Linked DNA regions of Homo sapiens. The protein of the gene in region 1 purifies or fractionates together with the protein of each later gene. This does not show direct contact. Each region holds a gene or a part of one and is shown in the gene's direction. Other genes may lie near its edges. The genes, in order: ASH1L, NUP155 and AKAP8.

Region 1 (4,050 bases):
AATTATTTGTGGACTTTAATCGTCCGTATTTCTGCTGCATTCAATTATCAAATATCAGTCAAGTGTTTTGAGAAACAAATATTCAGTAGCCACAGAAACCTAACAGGCCTATGTTTGCTTTGTTTTATTAACTCCTTGGAGGGACAGAACACTACCAATTACACCCACAAACGTTATCGACATCAACAGAACTGTAAATGACAACACGGCAATATTCTGCACTTTCCCTATGCCTAGGAGCTAATTCCACTTTACATATATTATCTTATTATTTCACACATTAACCCTGGAGGCATGTTTGGAGTTGCCTAATTTTTATGTACACTTTTTGATAAGGAACTAACAAAAATAACTTGCTGAAGGAAGAAAAGGGAGACTAAGTCCAGAACTGAATGAAAAGCACATGGTTTCTTCATCCTCCATCACCAGGCTGTCTAACGAGGCTGAAGAAGTACCATCCATGAGTAAGTGCGTCAAGGGCAAACAAACATCATCGCATATGGACAGTGGTGTGAAATTCGAGAAATCCGAGGAGGGTTAACAACAACAAAAAGCACACCACCACGCCGATCTTCCTCGGGTCCCAGGTTGGCAACTCAACGCCCGGGAGGAATCCCCCCGGAGGCGCGCCGGTCCTACTGGCCTCACTCCCTACCTCCTGGAGGTCCGGAGTCCCGCTCCTTTCCCTCAGCGGTACAATACCCGTGTCGGTCCATTCCCTCACCGTGAGTCGAGGACTAGTTCTCCTGACTAGGCGACCGGCACACACCGCCTGCGACCAGCTCCACAGCAGCGGTCCTGCTACTGCGAAGTAGGCTCAGGTCAACCGGCAGGAAACGACTCAACGCGCAGCCGCCGCGGCCTCCAACCACCGGTGGGCAGAGGGGCGCTAGGCAGTCCTCGATCCGCTCGCCGCGATCCGGCGGAGGAGGAGGAGCAGAGGGAGGCGAGCCGCAGCGCTGCGGCGAGGAGCCCAGGGAGGTAGGTTGTCGTGGGGCTCGGTCCGCCATTCTGGCAATTCCAGTCAAACGGCAAGCCCCGACCCGCTCGGCCCGTCCCTTCCTCTCCTGCCCCTGCAGCCGACAGGAATGGAACAGTCCCGCGGGGGGGATTGTGGGAGGCGCACGCGCGAGGGGTGGAGGGTGGTAGGGGGGGCTGGCGGCGGCGGCGGCGGCCGTGGCGGCGGTTGGTGGCCGTGGGGGCGGGGAAGGGGGGGGAGGAGAGAAGAGGAGGTGGAGGAGGAGGAGGAGGAGGCTTGGGCTTGCGCCGTTGAAGGTACGCGTGAGGGCCTGCGCCGGCGCCGGCTTGACAGGGCCTGAGGGGTAGTGAGGGACTGGACGAGGGGGTTCCTGTGGGTGAGCGCGTACGGGCTGGCTGGCGCGCGGGGCGGCCGAAGGTGGTGGTTGGTGGGAGCAGCCAGCGACGAGCCCGTAGACACTCGTACGCGTGCGGGCGGGCGTGCGCGCTACGCGGACGGAGTCGGGCGGAGCGGGGGACGGTGGGAAAGAACGCAAGGAGGAAGGAGTGGAAGGTTGAGGGGGGCGCTAGGCGCCCTTCGCTCCCTCCCTCTGGAGGAGCTGCCGCCGCCACCGCCGCCACTCTGCTGCTGCCGCCGCCGCCGCCGCCGCTCCCGCCGCCATTTTGGGTTCGCTTTGCGGAGGGGAGACGATCCCAGTCTCGGTTGCGGGACCCGCCTCCCCTCAGTTTGCCCCCTTTAGCCTTCCACCTTTCCCTTCTCCTCTCTCGCATTTCCGCCAGTCAGCTTACCCGCTGGCCGCCTCCTGACAAGCGGGAGGGATCCGCCGTGGACCCAGGGAAGCGGAGGAGCCTGGCGGCCACCCCCTCTTCCCCACTTCCCTGCACTCTCATCGCTCTCGGCCTCGGCCTCGGCCTCCGACACGGTGAGTAGAACGATTTGGGCCGGCATTCGGGCCTAAGCACTCTCTCAGCGATTGAATCCTGGGCTTTCTGGGAGCCACTGTCATCTCCCGGACCTGGATCTCTGAGAGAGCAGTGGTGAAGATGGGGGAGGGGAGAGCAGGGAGGGGGATCCTGAGCCTACCGGGAAGTCCCTCCAGGCGGGGTGAAGGGGTGTCCCTGACAGGCAGACTCCCGGAGGGGGCTGGGAAGTAAGCGAGTGGAGGCGGAGTCGGCTGTGCCCCTGACAGGTTAGTTTGTGTTTGTAGGCATGATCGGAGCCTCCCCCATAGTCCAGTTTGTGTGTGTTTAATTAAGGGATAAGAGTGGTCGAGGACACGATCTTGAGAGGGGATTTTACCTGTGTGACAAGGTCTGTGGTGTCCCTGCCGCGTTGAACGGTATGTGGGAACGACAGGATGATCTCAGTGTTGTAAGTTTAATAAATGTCACTGGTTAGTTTGTACATGGAAAGAGATGTTTTTGGTCTAGCAGACAGATGGTCTGTTGGTGTGTAGCGGCTGTGTTGGTGTGTGTATGTGAGGATGGCAAGTGTTTCCGTAAGAGTTTGCCTTTATTTGTGTAAGTGTAATGGAGTTCCCCTTATAAGTTAGCTTATTTCTTGAATAAATGTTGGGAGGTTCCTTGCAGGTTGATATGTGTGTGTATTTTAGGGATTGGGAGCCCCTAGTTACTTGTTGGGAAAGAGCGGCAATGGTAGTGTTCTGTACAGCATGTGTCTGTGAGGTCAGGGAGGGGAGAAACTTGGCATAGCCAGTTGTGGTCTTAAGAATAGTTTGTGCCTTTGGTTAGAGTGAGTTGTGTAAATGTGAAGGGCCAAAATATCTTTAACAGAATCATTACTACAAAGTTGTAAAGAATGGGTGGCCTTATTTGTTGTCGCGGGTTTATAGTAATAGTTTACAATACAATAAGAAAGCTCTTTCAGTTTTTTTGTGATACTGAATCTCTGTGAAAATGGTAGGATGCTTTCTTCCATTTTACAAAATAGGAAATTTAGGCATAAGGAGAGAACTTCTCCAAGGCCGCATGTTAAATTGGTGACAAAGTTGGAACTGTAACTCCCATATTTTCACTACTACTGCAGCAGTATATTCAGCATACCATGGTGCCTCAGGAAGTCTTTGTCGGCAAATCTGAGTATGCTGGAAAGATAGGAGCACATAAGACTGGTTGGCTTGTATTTGGGGGAGACCGATTGTGTCAGATATGTATGTGGAACGTAGCTGTCCTTGCCGAGTCTGACCTGTATGAAATGCATATCCATGACTATATTATTTTGGATTTATGGAGGAAGCAGAGCATTTCTGACACTTGAGGTTGTATGTGTGAGGGAGAGAAGGCTTTCACAGCTTAACTTGTACCAGAGCAGCTGCATGGGTGCTGACAGCTTAACTTGAAATCTGTGGGAGGAAGGATCCTTTTTCATTCATTCAACAAATATTTGTTGACTGCCTGTTCAATAAATGGTCCATGCCTTGGCGTGAGGATAATCAAGGTGTCTCTGTAAATAGCCTGGGTACAACGTGAGGGGAGTTGTTTTGACAGTGGTGGGTATTAAGTTGAGGGAGGCGGTGTGGAATTAAAACCAGAGAACTGTTTTTGGGTTCTGGTAATTGTTAATACATGTGCCTGTGGATGTTGGAACTTCTTGGCTGGGCTGAAGGAATCCTTTGAAAGACTCATTTCATATAGTAAGAATCCCCTCTATGAATATGAAGAAAGAATGCATAAACTAAGCCACTTAACCGTATTCTTCTGAAAAATGGGATGTTTCTTGATAGGCTAGATGAGTGGTTCTTAAAATTTTTTGGGGTCACTTATCCTTTTGAGAATCTGATGAAAGACACTGGGCCCTCAAGTTAGAAGATGAGCATAAGCACAATCACATGATTTATATATATGATTTTAGGAACTTAAAATGTAATAAAATAGAGCCAATTTATATTTAGGTCTCATTTGAAAACCTTTCATTTTCATTGTTCGGGTGTGTGGATGTTAGTATGAGTTTAAGATGAAAGAGTCTATGGTATTTGAACATGTTGACAGGAGAACTTTAGGGTCCATGTTTTTTATTCTTTTTATCATCTGCAAACTTATTTCTGCAGTATT
Region 2 (3,720 bases), on another chromosome or scaffold:
TTGAGTTTGAGACCAGCCTGAGTGAGCAACATGGCAAAACCCTGTCTCTACAAAAAGTGGCTGGGTGCGGTGGCTCACGCCCATAATCCCAGCACTTTGGGAGGCTGAGGTGGCAGATCACGAGGTTAGGAGTTCAAGACCAGCCTGACCAACGTGGTAAAACCCCGTCTCTACTAAAAATACAAAAATTAGCTGGGTGTGGTGGCTCATGGCTGTAATCCCAGTTATTCAGGAGGCTGAGGCAGGACAATCGCTTGAACCAGGGAGGCGGAAGTTGCAGTGAGCCGAGATCGCGCCACTGTACTCCAGCCAGGGCAATAGAGGGAGACTCTTTCTCAAAAGAAATGGGAGGCCCAGGTGGGCGGATCACGAGGTCAGGAGATGAGACCATCCTGGCTAACATGGTGAAACCCCCATCTCTACTAAAAATACAAAATAATTAGCCGGGCGTGGTGGCGGGCGCCTATAGTCCCAGCTACTCCGGAGGCTGAGACAGGAGAATGGTGTGAACCCGGGAGGCGGAGCTTGCAGTGAGCCGAGATCGCGCCACTGCATTCCAGCCTGGGCGACAGAGTGAGACTCCGTCTCAAAAAAAAAAAAAAAGGAAAAAGAAAAATGCTGTTTGGCTGGGCTCGGTGGTTTACTCCTGTAATCTCAGCAATTTGGGAGGCAAAGGTGAGTGGATCACTTGAGGTCAGGAGTTTGAGACTAGCCTGGCCATCATGGCGAAATCCTGTCTCTACTAAAAATACAAAAATTAGCCGGGTGTGGTGGCACACTCCTGTAGTCCTGGCATCTCGGGAGGCTGAGGCAGGAGAATCTCTTGAACCTGGGAGGCAGAGGTTGCAGTGAGCCGCCATTGCACTACAGCCTGGGCGACAGAGCGAGAGCCCATCCCAAAAAAAAACCCCAAAAACAAAAAAAAAATTAGCTAGGCATGGTGTCATGACACTGTAGTCCTAGCTACTCACGAGGCTGTGGTGGAAGATTGCTTGAGCCCAAGAGGCTGAGGTTGCCCTGAGCTGTGATTGCACCACTGCATTCCAGCCAAGGCGACAGAGTGAAACCCCGTCTCAGGAAAAAAAAAAAAAGAGAAAAAGAGTTCGGCCGGGTGCAGTGGCTCACATCTGTAATCCCAGCACTTTGGGAGGCCAAGGCAGGCGGATTACGAGGTCAAGAGATTGAGACCGGCCGGGCACGGTGGCTCACGCCTGTAATCCCAGCACTTTGGGAGGCCGAAGCGGGCAGATCACGAGGTCGGGAGATCGAGACCATCCTGGCTAACACGGTGACACCCCGTCTCTACTAAAAATAAAAAAATTAGCCTGGCGTGGCAACAGGCGCCTGTAGTCCCAGCTACTTGGGAGGCTGAGACAGAAGAATGGCCTGAACCCAGGTGGTGGAGCTTGCAGTGAGCTGAGATCAGGCCACTGCACTCCAGCCTGTGAGACTCCGTCTCAAAAAAAAAAAAAAAAAGATTGAGACTATCCTGGCCAACATGGTGAAACCTTGTCTCTATTAAAACTACAAAAATTAGCTGGGCGTGGTGGCTCATGCCTGTAATCCCAGCTACCCGGGAGTCTGAGGCAGGAGAATCCCTTGAACCAGGGAATTGGAGGTTGCAGTGAGCTGAGATCGCGCCAATGCACTCTAGCTTGGCGTCAGAGCGAGACTCCGTCTCAAAAAATAAAAATAAAAAGATAATTGGGGAAGGAGTGAACAATGATAAAAATGAAACATGATTGGGGATATTACTGGTTATTAAGTTGGATAATCAGTACATGGGTATTTATTGTATTTTTCTTATATATATTTTAAAAATTTCCATAATACACTTCAAGATTGTTTTATATGTCAGTTTTCCTTAACATCTTTGTACTCTATAGAACCTGAGAAAGTGCCTGAGATAAGTAGGTCATCAGTCAGGTCTAAATAACGCCTTGTCCGGGAGCAAGGGTAGGCTGAGTAGACCAGCCCACTCCTGTCCTTAGTGATGGAGTCTTAGAGCAAGAGAAAGGTTGCCCATGAGAACACTTTATAGAGCAGTCTTTGTTTTTATCCCCCCAATAAGATACTGCTTGTGGGGTATTATTTGTATTTGTCTTAGTGGTCTTGGGGATAAATCTAAAGGGAAAAGTCATGGGTTGTTTTAATCTATAAATGTTTAGCTGGTAAAGGCAGTATTTTCCCCCAGTCATTATTTTGTTTGCTTATAGTCATTTTACCTTTGAGCCCCAAAGCAGTTTTATATTTTCCCATTTCAGATTAGCAAAATGATAGAAAAACACTAAATTATTATTTTTAAATTTTTTTATTTTTAATTTTGTGTGTACATAGTAGGCGTCTGTGTGTGTGTGTGTGTGTGTGTGTGTGTGTGTGTGTGTGTATATATATATATATTTTTTTTTTTTTTTTTTTTTTTTTTCTCCCCGAGACAGAGTCTTGCTCTGTCACCCTGGCTGGAGTGCAGTGGCACGATCTTGGCTCACTGCTGCCTCCGCCTCCCAGGTTCAAGCAGTTCTCCTGCCTCAGCCTCCCAAGTAGCTGGGATTATAGGTGCTTGCTACTGTGCCTGGCTAATTTTTTTGTATTTTTAGTGGAGACAGGGTTTCACCATTTTGGCCAGGCTGGTCTTGAACTCCTGACCTTGTGATCGGCTTGCCTCTGCCTCCCAAAGTGCTGGGATTACAGGCGTGAGCTACCGCGCCCAACGGTGTATATATTTATGTGGTGCATGAGATGTTTTGATACAGGCATGCAATGTGAAATGATCACATCAGGGAAAATGGGGTATCTATCCTCTCAAGCATTTATCCTTTGTGTTACAAACAATACAATTACATGCTTTCATTTTGTTTATTTATTTATTTATTTATTTTTGAGACAGAGTCTTGCCCTGTCGCTCAGGCTGGAATGCAATGACACAATCTCAGCTCACTGCAACTTCCGCCTCCCGGGTTCAAGCAGTTCTGCCTCAGCCTCCGCAGTAGCTGGGATTATAGGCGCACGCCACCAGGCAGGCTAATTTTTTGTGTCTTTAGTAGAGATGGAGTTTCACCATGTTGGCCAGGCTAGTCTCAAACTCCTGACCTCATGATCCTCCTACCTCGGCCTCCCAAAGTGCTAGGATTACAGGCTTGAGCCACTGCGCCCAGCCACTTTTATTTTAAAATAACACTAAATTATCAAATTTAAACATTTCCAGCTGGGCACGGTGGCTCACACCTGTAATCCTAGCCTTTTGGGAGGCCGAGGCGGGCGGATCATGAGGTCAGGAGATCAAGACCAGCCTGGCTAACACGGTGAAACCCCGTTTCTACTAAAAATACAAAAAATTAGCCGGGTGTGGTGGCGGACGCCTGTAGTCTCAGCTACTTGGGAGACTGAGGCAGGAGAATGGCGTGAACCCGGGAGGTGGAGCTTGCAGTGAGCCGAGATTGTGCCACTGCACTCCAGCCTGGGCGACAGTGCGAGACTCTATCTCAAAAAAAAAAAAAATAAAATAAAATAAACATTTCCTTTGTTACAGAGCAAGTTTTTTGAGATATGACTTTCCCTTTAGGCCTGAAACCAGTAACTGTTCCTACCTTCACAAGGGAATATTTCAGGACTACTTTGTGTTGGGTCAAAACTAGAATATTCTCTCTGTACCTTTGGAACCAACACACAACAATTTTTTTGTGGCACTCAATCCTTTTGTTTGCCCGGTTGATGAGCAGT
Region 3 (3,720 bases), on another chromosome or scaffold:
CCCCCAGCCCATCTTCTGTGCCCTCCTCGGCCAGTGCATTTCCCTGAAGTGTTTTCTCTGGGGCTTCCTTTTGTCCAGTTCCTTCAGTCGCCTGCCCTGGGCTGTGCTGTGGGCCTCTGTGGTGGGGATACTGGCAGCTGCACTGCACATTGCTTCGTGCCTGCGAGTGTGTGACAGCAGACACCTGCGGGGTCGGGAGCACCCAGGCCCACTGGGTCTTTGAGAGGCGGGCGCCCTTCAGCAGGTCTCTTCATGTCCAATGCAGGAGACCAGAGGGTCTGCAGCAACAGCAGAGCAGGCTTAAATCCCTCATGGCAGAGCGGCCTGAGGTGCCGCGGCCTGGAGCTCACCCTGAAGCCACTCGTTTCTTTACCTGTCCTGTGGGTCTTTCCGTAGCTGGTTACCCCAAGGATCATAGGCTGGCTCCTCAGTGGCCCTGCTCCCATCCATTCTGAAGGCCCTTGGCTTAGATGTTCCTCCTGTTCAGGCTTTGCCAGCCCTCTGCGGTCCTCCCCCCCGCGACCCGCAGCAGTCCTGTCCATAGCACGGGGCGCCCCGAGCGCTTAGCGGCACAATGCTAAAGCAAAGGTGACATGTCTGTTGCGCGCAGGTCCTGCTACCTACCCGGGATGACTTTGCTATTAAACAGCAGTCATAGTTTCAGGCAGTGACCTCTTGCCAAAAATCCCACACGCCCTTTTGAGAGGCTTCTGAGCAGCGCACGCCGGTCGCCATCTTCGTGGGACAGTCTCGGGACTGGCATCAGGGGTAGGGGTTACAGTTCAGATGCTTCTCCAACCTTTTTTCAGCGTCCGTCCCTGGCCTCATGCTGGGATGATGGCCGCGTGGCTCTCCGAGGAGCTCCTCTGCTGGCCCCGGGGGACGGACGGGAGGACCAATTGGTCTCTTCCCAAATTTTTTTCTAGGATTGCTTCCCACGCAGCCCTGGGAAAGCCCTAGATTGACGGTTTTTGTGAGTGGAAGATAGAGGTCGGGCCAGCAAGGACTGTCAGACCTGCTGAGGCCCTAGTTCAGACGGGGCCGCCAGGACGCTCGTCACAGTCCACCTAGAGGTGGGATAGAGGGCGGCGGAGCAGCTGCTTCACTTCCTGAGGCCTTCAGCTGCCGCCTCTTCATCCGGGGAGAATTGGCTTCTCCTGTGATATTGGGAGAAGACCCCATCGCAGGGCATGAGATTGGACAAGCAGAATGGGGAGGACAGAGGGAGCAGGGGGCTGTGGTGCACATGGGGTGGGCAGGCTGTGTCCCTAGCCCATCCTGGCCGCCTCAGGCCATGTGGGGAGTTTGGTGACTACTCCGGGCTCTCACTCCAGGCCCGTGTCCACCAGGAGTCTCTGACAGTGCCTTGGGGCATCCTGGACCCTGCCGCGTGGTGCAGGCAGTGGCAGGGCACAGGGTGCGGTGGCCAAGCTGCAGCCCCCCGACCAGGCCCTGGAGCTCAGCTCCTTTGCAGGCCACTCAGAGCGTCTCGAAGGGACTTGTCTGTTACAGGAGAGAAGGAGGACGAGGACGAGGATGTGAAGAAGAGAAGGGAAAAGCAAAGGAGAAGAGACAGGACGCGGGACCGTGCAGCCGACAGGTGAGGCGCGGGCACACGACCCCACAGGAGGAGGTGGACTCGTGCGGTGGAGGCGCTGCCGAGCTCACCTGTCCTCGCTCCACAATGCTGGGGGCCTGGTGGCCTGACTCCTCTGGCCAAACCAGTGGGAGGCAAAACAGTAAACAATTGGGAGTGCAGAAAAGACCATCACTCGTGCTCCCAGCACACGAGCTACCTGTCTTCTAGGATGGCTGGGACGTTGCTTTGGTGGTTAGGTTTCTGTTCTTGCTTTAGAGGATTGGTGTTTGACTCCTGTGTCTCTATTCCTCTGGAATCCCAGCCTTGCTGGTGGGTCTGTGTGGTCCATAACTGCTCAGCAGCGGGCTCTGTTACTCTCCTGCAGGCCTGAGGGGCATCCCTGCCCCCTAGCCTGGTGTCTGGCATCTCAGACACTGTCCTGTGTTCACCTTATCCAAATCCAGACCACCCCTGGAGTTTGACACAGCTAGGAGACAGGTAGAGAGATGATCCTACCATCAAGATTTTGTCCCACAATAGAAAAGGATTGCAAAAATGTTGAGCCCAAAGGATGTCATTGTGAGCACACCATGTGCCTGCCTCTCCCTGCCAGGAGTTAAGTGGCTTCTGACTAGAAACTGAAATCACCAGTGATCATGTGATGCTGGGGAATCCTTGACCTTAAGGTTCACATGGGACAGTGATTTTCTTTTTGTTTGTTTGTTTCTGAGATGGAGTCTTGCTCTGTCGCCCAGGCTGGAGTGCAATAGCATAATCTCGGCTCACTATAACCTCTGCCTCCTAGGTTCAAGCGGTTCTCCTGCCTCAGCCTCCCGAGTAGCTGGGATTACAGGCGCCTGACACCACGCCTGGCTAATTTTTGTATTTTTAGTAGAGGTCGGGATTCACCGTGTTGGCAAGGCTGGTCTTAAACTCCTGATCTTGTGATCTGCCCGCCTTGGCCTCCCAAAGTGCTGGTATTACAAGCGTGAGCCACTGCGCCCAGTCTGGGCAGTGATTGTCGTGTTCAAAGAAATGCTTAGTAAAAGGGGCCAGATGCCGTGGCTCACACATGTAATTCCAGCACTTTGGAAGGCTGAGCTGGCGGATCGCTTGAGGCCGGGAGTTCAAGACCAGCCTGGTCAATATGGTGAAACCCATCTCTACTAAAATTACAAAAATTAGCCAGGCATGGTGGCAGGTGCCTGTAATCTCAGCTACTCGGGAGGCTGAGGCAGGAGAATCACTTAAACTGGGGAGGTGGACTTTGTAGTGAGCCAAGGTTGCACCACTGCACTCCAGCCTGGGCGACAGAGCAAGACTCTGTCTCAAAAAGAAAAAGAAACGGGCTGGGGGCAGTGGCTCACGCCTGTAATCCCACCACTTTGGGAGGCCAAGGCAGGCGGATCACCTGAGGTTGGGAGTTCGAGACCAGCCTGACCAACATGGAGAAACCCAGTCTCTACTAAAAATACAAAATTCGTCCGGCATGGTGGCGCATGCCTGTATTCCCCGCTGCTCGGGAGGCTGAGGCAGGAGAATTGCTTGAACCCAGGAGGTGGAGGTTGCAGTGAGCCAAGATCACACCACTGCATTCCAGCCTGGGCAACAAGAGCGAAACTCTATCTCAAATAAAAACTCCATCTCAGTGAGCCGAGATTGTGCTACTGCACTCCAGCGTGGGCGACGGAGCAAGACTCCATCTCAGGAACAAAAAAAAAAAAAGAAAATCACTGTTCCATGTGAACCTTAAATCAAGGATTCAAAAAAAAAAGAGAGAAATGCTTAGCAAAACGAAGCCAGGAACCAAACGCAGAACTGTTTCTTCTTAAGTGGTACAGGAACATTGAAACCCTTGTTATTTTAAACAGATAAATGGATAGAGTAGATGACTTTTCATGTCACATGGAAACTGAGATGACATTTTCTTTTTAATTATTTTTAAACTTAAATAATCTAATAAAGAGATAGGGGTCTTTCTCTGTTGCTTGGGCTGTTGAACTAGCCTCAAGAGATCTTCCTGCGTTGGCCTCCCAGAGTACTGGGAGAAGGGTATAGAGATGACATTTTTTTTTTACTACTTTTTGCTTTTTTTTTTTTTCTTTTTGCTTTTTTTTCATCTTGTATGTTCTTCCAATGAA

What was found.
Region 2: the proteins of ASH1L (region 1) and NUP155 purify together in Homo sapiens (affinity purification with mass spectrometry, with the first as the bait; one large-scale study listed by BioGRID). This does not show direct contact.
Region 3: the proteins of ASH1L (region 1) and AKAP8 purify together in Homo sapiens (affinity purification with western blotting, with the first as the bait; one study listed by BioGRID). This does not show direct contact.

Annotation. Positions count from the first base shown.
Region 1 is NC_000001.11:155,560,004-155,564,053, reverse strand, and holds the start of ASH1L (histone-lysine N-methyltransferase ASH1L), read left to right. Parts: upstream 1-1,250; 5' UTR 1,251-1,901; exon of another isoform or gene 1,902-2,012; intron 2,013-4,050. UniProt on the Homo sapiens protein: Histone methyltransferase specifically trimethylating 'Lys-36' of histone H3 forming H3K36me3. Also monomethylates 'Lys-9' of histone H3 (H3K9me1) in vitro. The physiological significance of the H3K9me1 activity is unclear.
Region 2 is NC_000005.10:37,364,419-37,368,138, reverse strand, and holds part of NUP155 (nuclear pore complex protein Nup155), read left to right. Parts: intron 1-3,720.
Region 3 is NC_000019.10:15,366,115-15,369,834, reverse strand, and holds part of AKAP8 (A-kinase anchor protein 8), read left to right. Parts: intron 1-1,512; coding exon 1,513-1,600; intron 1,601-3,720. UniProt on the Homo sapiens protein: Anchoring protein that mediates the subcellular compartmentation of cAMP-dependent protein kinase (PKA type II).